Homo sapiens: one gene and its partners. The protein of the gene in region 2 purifies or fractionates together with the protein of the main gene of each other region. This does not show direct contact. Each region holds a gene or a part of one and is shown on either strand. Other genes may lie near its edges. The genes, in order: USP32, CX3CL1 and C1GALT1.

Region 1 (3,746 bases), on a different chromosome or scaffold from region 2:
AAAAAAAAAAAGAAAAACACAGAATATTACCTTCTTTCTCTAGCAGGGTATATTAGAATCTGTTGGTTTTAGGAACTAATAACCTTTCCCTGGCCCTAAATTACCTAACCGGCACCTTGGGTCCAATCTAATCCAAATGGTTACTTTTTCAATATTGCTTCCTTTTCCAGAAGCTTTATTCCGTGACTTTTAGGTTGAAGACGCAAACTAAATAAGAGTTGAAAATCAAGGAACTAAATAATAATTCCACTGTACATATACACCCCATTTGGTTTCTCCATTTATGGTTTCCTATAGGTTGTGTTCACCTTTTGGCTCTCGTGAATAATGCTGCTATAAACACGGGGGCACAAATACCTGTTCACATCCCTGCTTTTCATTCTTTGGGAAATGGAGAGGTGGAGTGGGAGAGTCAGTCACATGCTGCCACACCATGAACCTGGAAGGCACGATGCCAAGTGAAATAAGCCAGTCACAAAAGAGAAAGTCTGCAGAGTTCCACTCAGAGGAAATACTTAAGAGTAGTGAAATTGATAGTAGGACAGCGGTTGCCACGGACCAGTGGGAGGGGGATTGGGGAGTTACCGTTTAATAGGCACAGAGTTTCCCTTTTGCAAGATGAAAAACGGTGGGAAATGGGACGTGGCAATGGATGCAAAACAATATCAATGTTCTTAACGCCACTGAACTCACTTAGAAATTGTGAAAATGGTACATTTTGTTACGTATATTTTACCACAGATTAAAACGACTCCACGCTAAGCCTTGTAGCCCTCATGTTTCTCGGGGAGAAACTCTGGGAGAGAGGATAAGCCTTTTGCACAGCGCTTTCCAGAGAATGTGTACAAGAGGCATGGTCAGGAGGAGAAGGTGGGCCGGGCAGGCGAGATGACCCGAAAAGGCAGATCCACTTCGTTAACAAGGTCCACTTTCCTCAGGGATCTCCCGCTAGGTGTGAGCATTCTTTTGTCACAGGAAAGCCTTGAGATTCTCCTTTCCTTTCACAACGCCCTCCCAGTCAAAGACGTCCCTAAGGTTGGGAGCTCCCTGCCTACCCACTCCTTTCTCTTCTGAGCCATATGCCGCATCCCTCAGAACCCCATTCCCTAAGATTCTGCGGTCTTCCATGTTAGGTCCCGGCAACTGCCACACTAACCGTCAGCTGCTCGGACCCCACCCGCCGAACGCCAGAACATGTGGGCGCGGGGGCGGGGGGGGTCGTCCTCAAGCGCCCCGGAAGTCACCACCCCCCGTCGCCAGCGGAGGCGCCCGGGCGGGGCGCGCGGCTGCGATTGGCGGGAAGATGGGACGATGCGTTACGTGCGGAGATGCGTCCCCCTCCCCGGCGCTCCTGCGCGCGGTTAGCTTGGGGAGGGGCGGAGCGTGCGGCCCTGGGCGGCCGTTACCGGGAACAGTGTCTGGCCTCGGGTCCCGTGACCCTCGGCGGAGCTGGCGGGAGGGGGCGGAAGTGGCAAGAGGGCGTGAGGAGGGAAGGAGAGGGAGGAGAGAGAGGAGAGAGAAGGGCGGAGTAGGAGGCAGGGGAAGGGGGCGGGGCGGAAGAGTCACGTGATCCGGCATGGAGGCGGTGGCGGCGACCGGGAGGAGCCGCCGGGGCAGAAGCCGCACTTGTTAGTGTGGGGGGAGGTGGGGGCGGGGGACGCCGACACCGTCACCGTCACCCAGGGACGCCGAGGAGAAGGCGGGAGGGGGGTGGGGGCGAGATCAGGCTCCGACCCCCCGCCGAGGGGATGAGGGGAGCATGGGTGCCAAGGAGTCACGGATCGGATTCCTCAGCTACGAGGAGGCGCTGAGGAGAGGTGAGGGGGGAGGGGTCTGGGCGAGCTGCCTGGGAGGCCCGCGACGGGCAGCCTGGAGGGTGGGTAACCGGGAGGGAGAGGGGAGATTGAGGGCGTGGGGCGCCTGAGGCGGAAGGGAAAGGCGGCCGGCCTTGGGGAGTGTGGTGGAGGAGAGAGGTCGGGTGGGAAGCAGCGTTTGGGAATTAGGGCCGTTTGGAAAGGGGCTTGTCCTGAGAGAGGGGGATCGGCGCTGGCAGGGCAGTGCCCGTGCTCGCTGGTGGCGTTGTGATCCTGGATGTGTCCAGGGAAGTCCTCTCCCCGTTTTCTTGGGCGGCTCCAGCCCATCCAGCCCCCCTCATCCTTCATTGCCATTTTCTCCTATCATTCCTTCATAAAAACCTCAAATAACATCCTAACCTCGTTCCTAACAGCCTTAGCTGGAAGGGGACGAGGAGGCGGCTGCAAAGCGCTCCTCTCTGCTACTGGAAGCCCCTTCGTATCTGGGGAGTCCCTGCCTTTTCCCAGAGCCTATGCCTGTCTCTTGAGGGCTGTGGCCATCCGCTTCTGCCACCCTTCACCGTTTGAGCGGCTGACTTTGATAAGAACGATCTGAAATGAAGTTGTGTTTGAGGTGAGATGAGACTGGACAGCTGGCGTTGGCACCAGACCTTGTCTTAGGTTTCATCTCCTCCGACGTTGACCAAAGCCTTTGACTGCACTTGATGCCCAGTTCTCGCTCCATCCCTCTCCATGAAATGGCATTGGGAAGTCCAGCATTCAGATATTGTGTTAAATCTCCCTTTAGAGACTGGCCTGGCTGCCAGTCCCGGCCTGCTGCTTATTGGCTCTGAGGCACAGTATATTGTTGGCAGCCCCAACCCCCTACCACTCACTCTGATACCGCTGTCCATGATCACTAAAGCACACACTAACTGGAAGTGTCTTGTTGCACAGTTTATGGCCGGAATGTCTTAATTTTTCATGACTGGGATTTCAGTGTGTGTAGATCTGTGTATGCTTGTATTTCTTTTAGACATTTAATGGATATTCTTGGTAAGAAGTGAAAAAACATTAAGAAGATTAGGAGCTAGGCATTATTGTTAACAGGTTTCCAAGTCAAGAAATCAGCCATGCTCCAGGTGGTTTTAGTAGCTAAGGATATAAAATGGTAATTAGATTAAAAGACGGGTATTCAAAATGAGGCTTGAGAAGTGAACTCTTGTTCGTATATAGGAAGAAGAGGGGTAAGTGGGTAAGTTCAGTTGACCATCACCTGACAGTAAGATACAGAATTGAGATGTATTGGTGGTGGTGGATTTACCAGAATAACACAGATATGCCTTTTATGTCTTTCTTTCTTTTTCCCTTGTGGAACAGTATAATAATTGTTTTTATGGACAATCTCATTTGAACTTTTTTTGTCTGCCCCAATATGAGAAATATTCCAAATTCTTGATGTGTTTCCAGCCCTAGTAGGCTAGTCATTTCCGGGATGCTGTTGAGCCTGACAGGTCTGGCCTCAATTAGGCAATGGCTTACATGGCATGAAAGAGGACATTAGTCAAACTGATTTACAGCTTCAAGGTTCAGAAGTGTTTCTTAAGTTTGAGGGTGTGAATACTAGTGATGTACCTGGCATTGAGAAATTCCAAAATTAAACTTGTATTCAGCTCTAGCCTGCTTAATCTCCTATCAAACTAAGATGGTACGTTTGTAAATACAAATGAAGTTAATTGCATTTTAAACTGATCTGACTGGAAGGTTTTTGTTTAATTTCTTATACAGTGTCTGCCTGTTGAATTTTAAAACACATGTATTTGAAGAGATAGCAAAATCTTTGTTAAGAGCTTATTTGTAACTATTGGAATGAATTTATGTTTTTTTTTTGAGACGAGTCTTGCTCTGTTGCCCAGGCTGGAGTGCAGTGGCGCGATCTCGGCTCACTGCAAG
Region 2 (3,746 bases):
GGACTGCAGGCACAGGCCACCACACTAATTTTCGTATATTTTTTGTAGGGAGGGGGTTTCACCATGTTTGTAGAGAGGGGGTTTTGCCAGGCTGGTCTCAGATTCCCGGGAATCTGCCTCTGCCTCCTGCCTCGGCCTCCCAAAGTGCTGGGATTACAGGTGTGAGCCACCACATCCGGCCTGGAGTCCTGTTTAGCCTTGGGTCTGGCTAGCCTGAAAGCCTGGTTATTGTGTCCAAATTAAATCTAAATTCAGTTCTTAACATCCTAATGAGATAGATGGGGGTGATCATTCCCATTTTATGGGAGTAGAAGCTGGACCTGGGGAGGGTAGAGGGTGTCCAAAGGGTCAAATGAGGAAAAGCAGAGCCGTGCTTTGCATTTTCGCTTCTATTTTATGCCAGGCTCTGTCCCGTACCCTATGGACATAAACTCACTTAGTCTTCACATTGGTCCTCGCAGTGAGGGTGGAGGCAGGTGGTGGACCCTACTGGTCTTGAGCTCAGACCTCAGAGCCAGCTGGCTGGGACGAATCCAGGATCCCTCATTTCCTGGCTGGTGAACCTAAGAAAATGTCTTTTTTTTTTTTTTTTTTTAGACAGAGTCTCACTCTGTCACCCAGGCTAGAGTGCAGTGGCGTGATCTTGGCTCACTGCAACCCTCTGCCTCCCAGGTTCAAGCGATTCTCCTGCCTCAGCCTCCCAAGTAGCTGGGATTACAGGTGTGCACCACACCCAGCTAATTTTTGTATTTTTAGTAGAGACGAGGTTTCACCGTGTTGGCCAGGCTGGCCTCGAACTCCTGACCTCAGGTGATCCACCCACCTCAGCCTCCCAAAGTGCTGGGATTACAGGCGTGAGCCATCGCACTCGGCCTCCTCCTCTGTTCTTACATGAACAGAGCAGAAAGAACACGACCTCAGTTTTTATCCCTCCTTGTCCCTCTCTGGGCCTCAGTTTCACCAGTTATAAAAAGAGGGATTGGACATTGGGAATGAGAAGGCTACTAGCTTCCCATGTGCACAGGCCAGGACAGATTCTCTGAGCATGAGTGGACCTTGGCTCCTGCCAAGGGTGTTCCGCTACTTCAAGAAGTATCTAGCCTCCTAACCCCTAACCCCATGCACCAGGCAGCCCATTGGGTTGGGTGGGGGGGCGGGGGGGGGTGGTTGAGGAGAGAGAGGTCCCTGGCCTTGGGATCTGTGGCCCCTCTGCCCAGCCCAACTGGCTCATAGCGTGGGATGCTGGCTCCACAACTGGTTTCCCTCAGATTGGCAGCCTGGAGACACCAGTACAGCTCAGTCCTATACCAAGGCAGAGCTGCTGACTCTTCTGGAGTCTCAGGGATTGTTGCCACTGCCTTTAGGGAAGGCTGCCATGAAGGCAGACTGTGTTCTAATGTGCTCCCAAGGCTGGCAAGCCTCTGCACCCTTCGGTGAGAGCCTGTTGGAGGGCCGGTGCTGGGAAGCCCTCTCCCCATTGCACTAGCCCAATGCTCTCTTTGGGCAGATAGAGAACTCAGGCCCCACGAGAGGCAAGCCTTATCCAAGCCACGGCTACAGAGTTGAGGAGCCAAGAGCCACAGAGTTATCGGGGATGGGTTGGCAGCCACCTTGTTCTTTGGGCTAACAGGGGCCAGAGCAGAGGTGGGAGTGGGTGCAAAGCAGGGAGCGGGAGACCGGGAGGTGGAGGCAGGGAGGCCAGGGCTCTCTCCTGGGTCCTGAGCTGTCCACATTCTGCTCATCATGGTGGTGGGAGGGGAGTTCTCCACTCTGATGCTGTGGATAACCTGGGGTGGCTCCGGGCCTCAGTTTCCCCATCTATCCATATGAAGTTGGACTCAATCCTTCTTTCAGCAGACCCTGCACCAAGCCCCTGCTGACTTCAGGCTCCCTGCTGGGCTCTGGAGATGCATAGATCAACAAGGTCCCCCAGGAGCTTGGGATTCTAAGAGGGGAAATTTAGGGGTCCATCCTGATGTGGGCGAGGCATTCTCTGGATCAAAGAAGAGCTTGTCAGACCCAGGATGGAGGGGCCCTGAGTCTCTCCCGGCCCCTTGGCGCCCCGCTCTCTATTCCACGGCCTGCTGGCCTTTTGTGTGTTGCCCACTTAGGATCAAGGGCCCCAGGCCAGATCCTAGGGCATGTTCCCAGCTTGTGGCAGGAGAGGAGGCCTTTGTACCCAGGCAGGCCCAGTCCAGCCTCCCGGGGAAGGTCCCAGTATGACAAGCCTAGGATGGTGAGAAGCCCAGGGACACAAAGCCGGCTTGGTTCCTTGGCAACATCCTGAGGAATCCAGCGGCTGCACACTGGCTCCCTTCCTCTCCCCTCCCACCCTCCTGCCTGCGGGGGCTGGAGGCGGAGGCAGCCAACCCCATTATAAAAAGCCACAGATCTCTGGCGGCGGCAAGGGGACAGCACTGAGCTCTGCCGCCTGGCTCTAGCCGCCTGCCTGGCCCCCGCCGGGACTCTTGCCCACCCTCAGCCATGGCTCCGATATCTCTGTCGTGGCTGCTCCGCTTGGCCACCTTCTGCCATCTGACTGTCCTGCTGGCTGGTAAGTGGGGCTTGACTTGGGCACAAACAGGGTAGGGAGCCCCCAGCCCCTTGTCTATCCCTCAAGCCTGACATCAGGGGCCCCAGACCCTGCCTGGGTAAAGCTCAAGGCCGGTGGCAGCCGCTTCCCCAGGGATGTGCGAGAGGGGGCTGGGCACCTCGCTTCCCCCAGATGCAGCGCTGGACAGATTTCCAGTTGCCAGCGACCGCCCTGCCTGGCCCAGCGAGCAAAGTGGCTGTGCCTGGAAGCACAGAGAGGTGGTGTGGGTGGCATAAGGGAGCCAGGTGTGGGTGTGCCAGGAGGGCGGGGGTGGAGAGAGCCTGCAGAAGCTCCTGCTGGGCACTGGGGTGGGAGGCCCTGGCTGACAGTGGCTGGCTCTTTCCATCAAGCGTTAATGTGTAACCCGCAGCCCTGGCCCTGGGCCAGGCCACAGTTGGGACTTTCTCCTGTCCTGTTTTCAAAGCCCCCAGGATTAGGGGGCCCAGGACCAGTGAAGGTCAAGGTCACTGCAGCTCATGGTTGGGGCTTGCCACTGCTGTGCTAGTCTATAGCCCCAGTTGCTCTGCCTGTGTCTACCCGTCATGCTGTCTTCCTCCTCCAAGCACAGTGTAGAAAATGCTTTTGCCTCTAGTCACTTGCTTACTGAAGCCCAGGACCTGGTAGGGGTACATAATTAACCATCCTACCTGATATGGATAAGATGGAGGCCCAGAGAGGTTTAGAAACTGGCCTGACAATGCACAGCCAGCAAGTAGGGCAGGAGAAGGTAAGACACATGGGACTGAATGCAGGAGAGAGCACAGATGCACACTCACCACCTCTGTGGGCCACATCACCTCCATGAACCGCTAGCCAGCCCCCTCCTCAGGGAGTGCCCCCACCATCTGGCAGGGTGACCTTCAGAGAAGGTGGGCACACAGCAAGTCTGGGAGAATGAGAAGTAGTCCCCACTGTCCAGATATTTCCATGGAGCAAACTCACCCTGGGGCAGGGAGCAGGTGTGTGGGTGGGTGGGCACGTGAGAGTGGTGGAGGCAAATTCCTGCTGGCTTCCTGCTGTCTGGGCTGGGGCCCTGAAGCCTGAGGTGTCTGCGGACAGTGAGATCTGGAAAGCAGGGAGTCAGATGGCGGCTGCTTTGCCACAGTCCTGTTATGTGACCGTGAGCAGGGTCTTGCCTCCTCTGGTCCCAGTT
Region 3 (3,746 bases), on a different chromosome or scaffold from region 2:
AATGATGTTATTCATGACTGTTGTTCACTGTGCAGATAATACGATCCAATTTATGAAATATTGTATTTATATGTCTATATGTGCTTTTATTCTTAGAGAGATGCCTAGAAGAATGTAACACAAAATTTAAGAAATGGTTATCTCTATATTATGGTATTTGGACAGATTTTAACTTCTTTGCATTTTTGTTTAAATTTTTTAAATTTGTTTGCATAAGCATGTATTGTTTTTATAAAACAATAGTTATTAGCTGGGTGCCACAGCCTGTGCCTGTAATCCCAACTACTGGGGAGGCTAAGGCGGGAAGATTGCTTCAGCCTTCAGCCCAGTTATTCGAGGCTGTTGTGTGCCAAGATCACACCTGTGAATAGCCACTGCATTCCAGCCTGGGCAACATAGAAAGACCATATCTCTTCAAAAAAAAAAAAAAGCTATTTTCAAAGAAAGGCAGGGTGGGGGCAGGGCTGATTTGGTCCAGTATTGTTTCTAGCAAGTAATTTTCCAGGATAAGGCTGTGGCTGACCTTATTTTAGGAAAGGGTTCTAATCTTTGCTCAATGGAAAAAAGTGTTATTCTTTATTAATTATAACTTTTAATAAAATTAAAACGAGATAAGGAGTTGTGAGTTTTGGTTTCTATTTGGAACACTGACCCCTGAAAGAGTTCTCCTTCCATGTTTCACAATGGATGGCAAGACATTGCGGAAAGGTGGAAGGATGTTGCGGAAAGGTGGAAGGATATTGCGGAAAGGTGGAAGGATATTGCGGAAAGGTGGAGGGGGAGGAGGCTGAGCAACAACTGTATACAAGTTGGGGAGGAGTAGAGAATGGACGTAATCATGTAAGGCAGAGAAGTCTGGACCCATGAGCCAAGGAAAGAGCAATAACCTGGACATCAGGATAGCTGCACTTCTCTTCTAACATGGACCTATCAGTTTATCTTTCTGGCCTTAGTTTTGTCATCTGAAAAATGAGACATCTGTATTAGAATCACTACATGTGCTTTATGTTTCACAATTCTTTTGGATATATTGATGCAATGTCCTGAGAAACTACACTACAGCTGAACCTAAGCAAATTAAAGGAAAAATAACAATAACTAATGTATATTATTATTTGTCTCAGGCATTCTAAGTAACTTGCCAATAGGTGGAGGGACCAAGATGCCAGCCCGGGCAGTCTGATTTCAGAGCCCATACTCTTTAACAACCATGCTGTAGAGTACTAAAGAACCGCTTGGATAGGGCATTTAAAGGAAGCAGGGTAGCTTTCCTATTCTGGAACGTGGTCTTGTAGATAATGGTTAACGCCAGTAAAGACTAAACCTTACCCTCACCTCATGACTATTGTGGGGTTGCCTCAACAGGTGGCAGCCTCCTCCCCCTATTCCAAAGACAACTTCCTTATTCAGAGCCCAGCGAAAGGGGAGATAGGTTTTGTTACGCCCCTAAGAAGCTCTTCCGGCCATTGCCCCACAGAACCGAAGTGCTGACAGAACCAAAGACGAAATGTGCCTATAGAAAGCTTTCTGGTATCATTATCTCGGTTCTCAGCTCTTCCTGGTTCTCACATGATGACCCAGCACCCGTATGCATACTTCATCTTATTACTTCCTTTTATTAAGCCCAGAGAGATACTGAGTAAAGAGAGCACGGGGAGAGAACAGAAAAACAAATGAACGGGTTAAGAGCAGGCTACAGGCCACAAGAGTCCTGCAGGGTTAGAGCCTGTACCTCAGACAAAGGTCCTTCAAGCATCCCCTTTCTCGCTCCCTATTGTTACCCTGCTTTCGTCCCGCTCAAGGTCTTGAAGCTAGTGCATAACCTTACAGCAGGATCAGAAATGCGGAGAGTAGCAGACACAAGCCGCAAGGGGGATACAACAAAATCTACTGCTCGTGCAAGATCCGACTTCCCAGACCCCTTCGCATTAGGGCGGAGCGTGCACCCGGCAGCCAATCCCCGCTTCCTCACGTCGCCGTATCCCCGCCCACCGCCCCTCCCGCTCCGCCCTTCCCTGGGGCTGGTGCGGCGGCGGAGACGTCAGCGCCAGGAGACTTCGGGTGGCGGCTGCGCCATAGGCGGGCCACGGCCTGGACGCGCTGCGGGGAGGGGCGGAGCGAGCGGGCGGGAGCGCGCGCTGGGCCCGCCTTGGCCGCCGCCGCTGTGCTGCCGCTGCCGGGGAATAATCTGGGCGGCAGCGGGCGGCCTCGGCTAGCGGCCACGAGCCACTTCTGCGGCTGCCCAGAGAAGCAAAGGTCACCAGTCCCAAGTCGTCCCCCTCTCCGCCCCCCAGGAGGGGCGAGAGGGAGCCGCAGCTGATGTCAGGTATGGCCGGCGGAGGCGCCCTCAGGCTACGGGTCCAAGGTCTCGTCTCCCCTCGCCCTCCCCCCTCTCCGGGTTGGTGGGGAAGCGTGGAGGATGGAACCAAACCCCGGGCGCGGCGGAACAGGTGTCTCGGGGTCAAAGCCGGGCTGGGGTCGTCCGGGCTCCTGAGGAAGGCGCGAGGACTTCCCGCTCCCGGAGCCTTAGCGATCTGCCACAGCGTTCGGCTGCGTACCCGGCCTCAATTTTGTGGACATGTACCCTCCTCTTCGTCGTGGGTCCTTCCCTTGTGCCCGCTCGCGCCCCTCTTCTGCTCGCGCGCTGCCTGGCGGCGCGGCGGGGCGCGCAGTGCGCCCGGACCGGACCACTTAGCGGTCCTGCCCCGCCGGGCCCTCCCAGTCCCTCCTCCCGGGCCCTCCCCGCCCCGCCGCAGACCTGTGGGTCCCGCCGGACTGGGCGCCCAGGTGTTGGGCACCTTCGCCGGGGAGCCACTCGGCTGCCGCGCCGCCTGAGCGCCCAGCGAGCGGGCTCCTTCCAGAGGTGCCTGGAGCTTGCTTGGGTCTAGCTTGGATCATCAGGTTTGTCTGTAGCTGATTTATTTCTTTAAGTTTCCCTGCCGCAGAGTGAAGCAGATACGTGTGTGTTGGGGCATTCGGGGCATGGAGGAGGAAGAAAGGCATTAAATTTTTTTTTTTTGCTTCTGCACCCCATTTTTCCCCAACAAATTGTGATGGAATTAGTAGGTGTTGACAAGTTGTCCATTTGCTTTGAATTTGGGTAAGTCGTACACTCTTAAAAGATGACCATAATTTAGCGCTGTGGATTTATTCTTTCCTGGTCCTTACCGTCTCCCCACCCCCCACCACCCCGCATTTAAAGCAAACAACAGTATCAGCAACAAAAAACCCACACATCCTGGAAAAATTCTCAAGATTTCTAACCTAGTTCTCTATATCCATTGTACATACTACTGTATTTCCTTTTAACGCTTTTTTAAGATAGAAAACTATTGTGCTAACCATGGATTGATTTCATTATGAATTTAAAAGTTATAAATTTAGAACCATAATGAATCAATGAATAATTGGCCGATGTGTAAGGGAGAGAAATATGTTAACTTACTAAAAGTTGGGCATAGAACATAGCTCTGCCAGGAAAAAGTGCGCATAATTTCAAGTTGCTTCATTCTGGTGTGAGTTTGGGAAGTTGGAATCCGAGTTTTTAGAAGGTATTTAGATGACAGCTTTTCACCCTCTTAGGTAAATGGCAGTTGAGCTTAATGCCCATGATGCTGTATGTTCTAAATATTGTATATAGTACACTATACTTTCTACCAGTCTTTATATATAGATGTACAGTTTAAGTGAATATAAAGTTTCAAGTTAGCAAACAGTTAACTCTTCACCTTATGGTAAGTGAAACA

What was found.
Region 1: the proteins of CX3CL1 (region 2) and USP32 purify together in Homo sapiens (co-immunoprecipitation; 2 studies listed by BioGRID and IntAct, with this or other methods). This does not show direct contact.
Region 3: the proteins of CX3CL1 (region 2) and C1GALT1 purify together in Homo sapiens (co-immunoprecipitation; 2 studies listed by BioGRID and IntAct, with this or other methods). This does not show direct contact.

Annotation. Positions count from the first base shown.
Region 1 is NC_000017.11:60,389,953-60,393,698, reverse strand, and holds the start of USP32 (ubiquitin carboxyl-terminal hydrolase 32), read left to right. Parts: upstream 1-1,565; 5' UTR 1,566-1,759; coding exon 1,760-1,817; intron 1,818-2,071; exon of another isoform or gene 2,072-3,746. UniProt on the Homo sapiens protein: Deubiquitinase that can remove conjugated ubiquitin from target proteins, such as RAB7A and LAMTOR1.
Region 2 is NC_000016.10:57,370,085-57,373,830, forward strand, and holds the start of CX3CL1 (fractalkine isoform 1 precursor), read left to right. Parts: upstream 1-2,405; 5' UTR 2,406-2,484; coding exon 2,485-2,554; intron 2,555-3,746. UniProt on the Homo sapiens protein: Chemokine that acts as a ligand for both CX3CR1 and integrins ITGAV:ITGB3 and ITGA4:ITGB1. The CX3CR1-CX3CL1 signaling exerts distinct functions in different tissue compartments, such as immune response, inflammation, cell adhesion and chemotaxis.
Region 3 is NC_000007.14:7,180,495-7,184,240, forward strand, and holds the start of C1GALT1 (glycoprotein-N-acetylgalactosamine 3-beta-galactosyltransferase 1), read left to right. Parts: upstream 1-2,049; 5' UTR 2,050-2,326; exon of another isoform or gene 2,327-2,901; intron 2,902-2,931; exon of another isoform or gene 2,932-3,100; intron 3,101-3,746. UniProt on the Homo sapiens protein: Glycosyltransferase that generates the core 1 O-glycan Gal-beta1-3GalNAc-alpha1-Ser/Thr (T antigen), which is a precursor for many extended O-glycans in glycoproteins.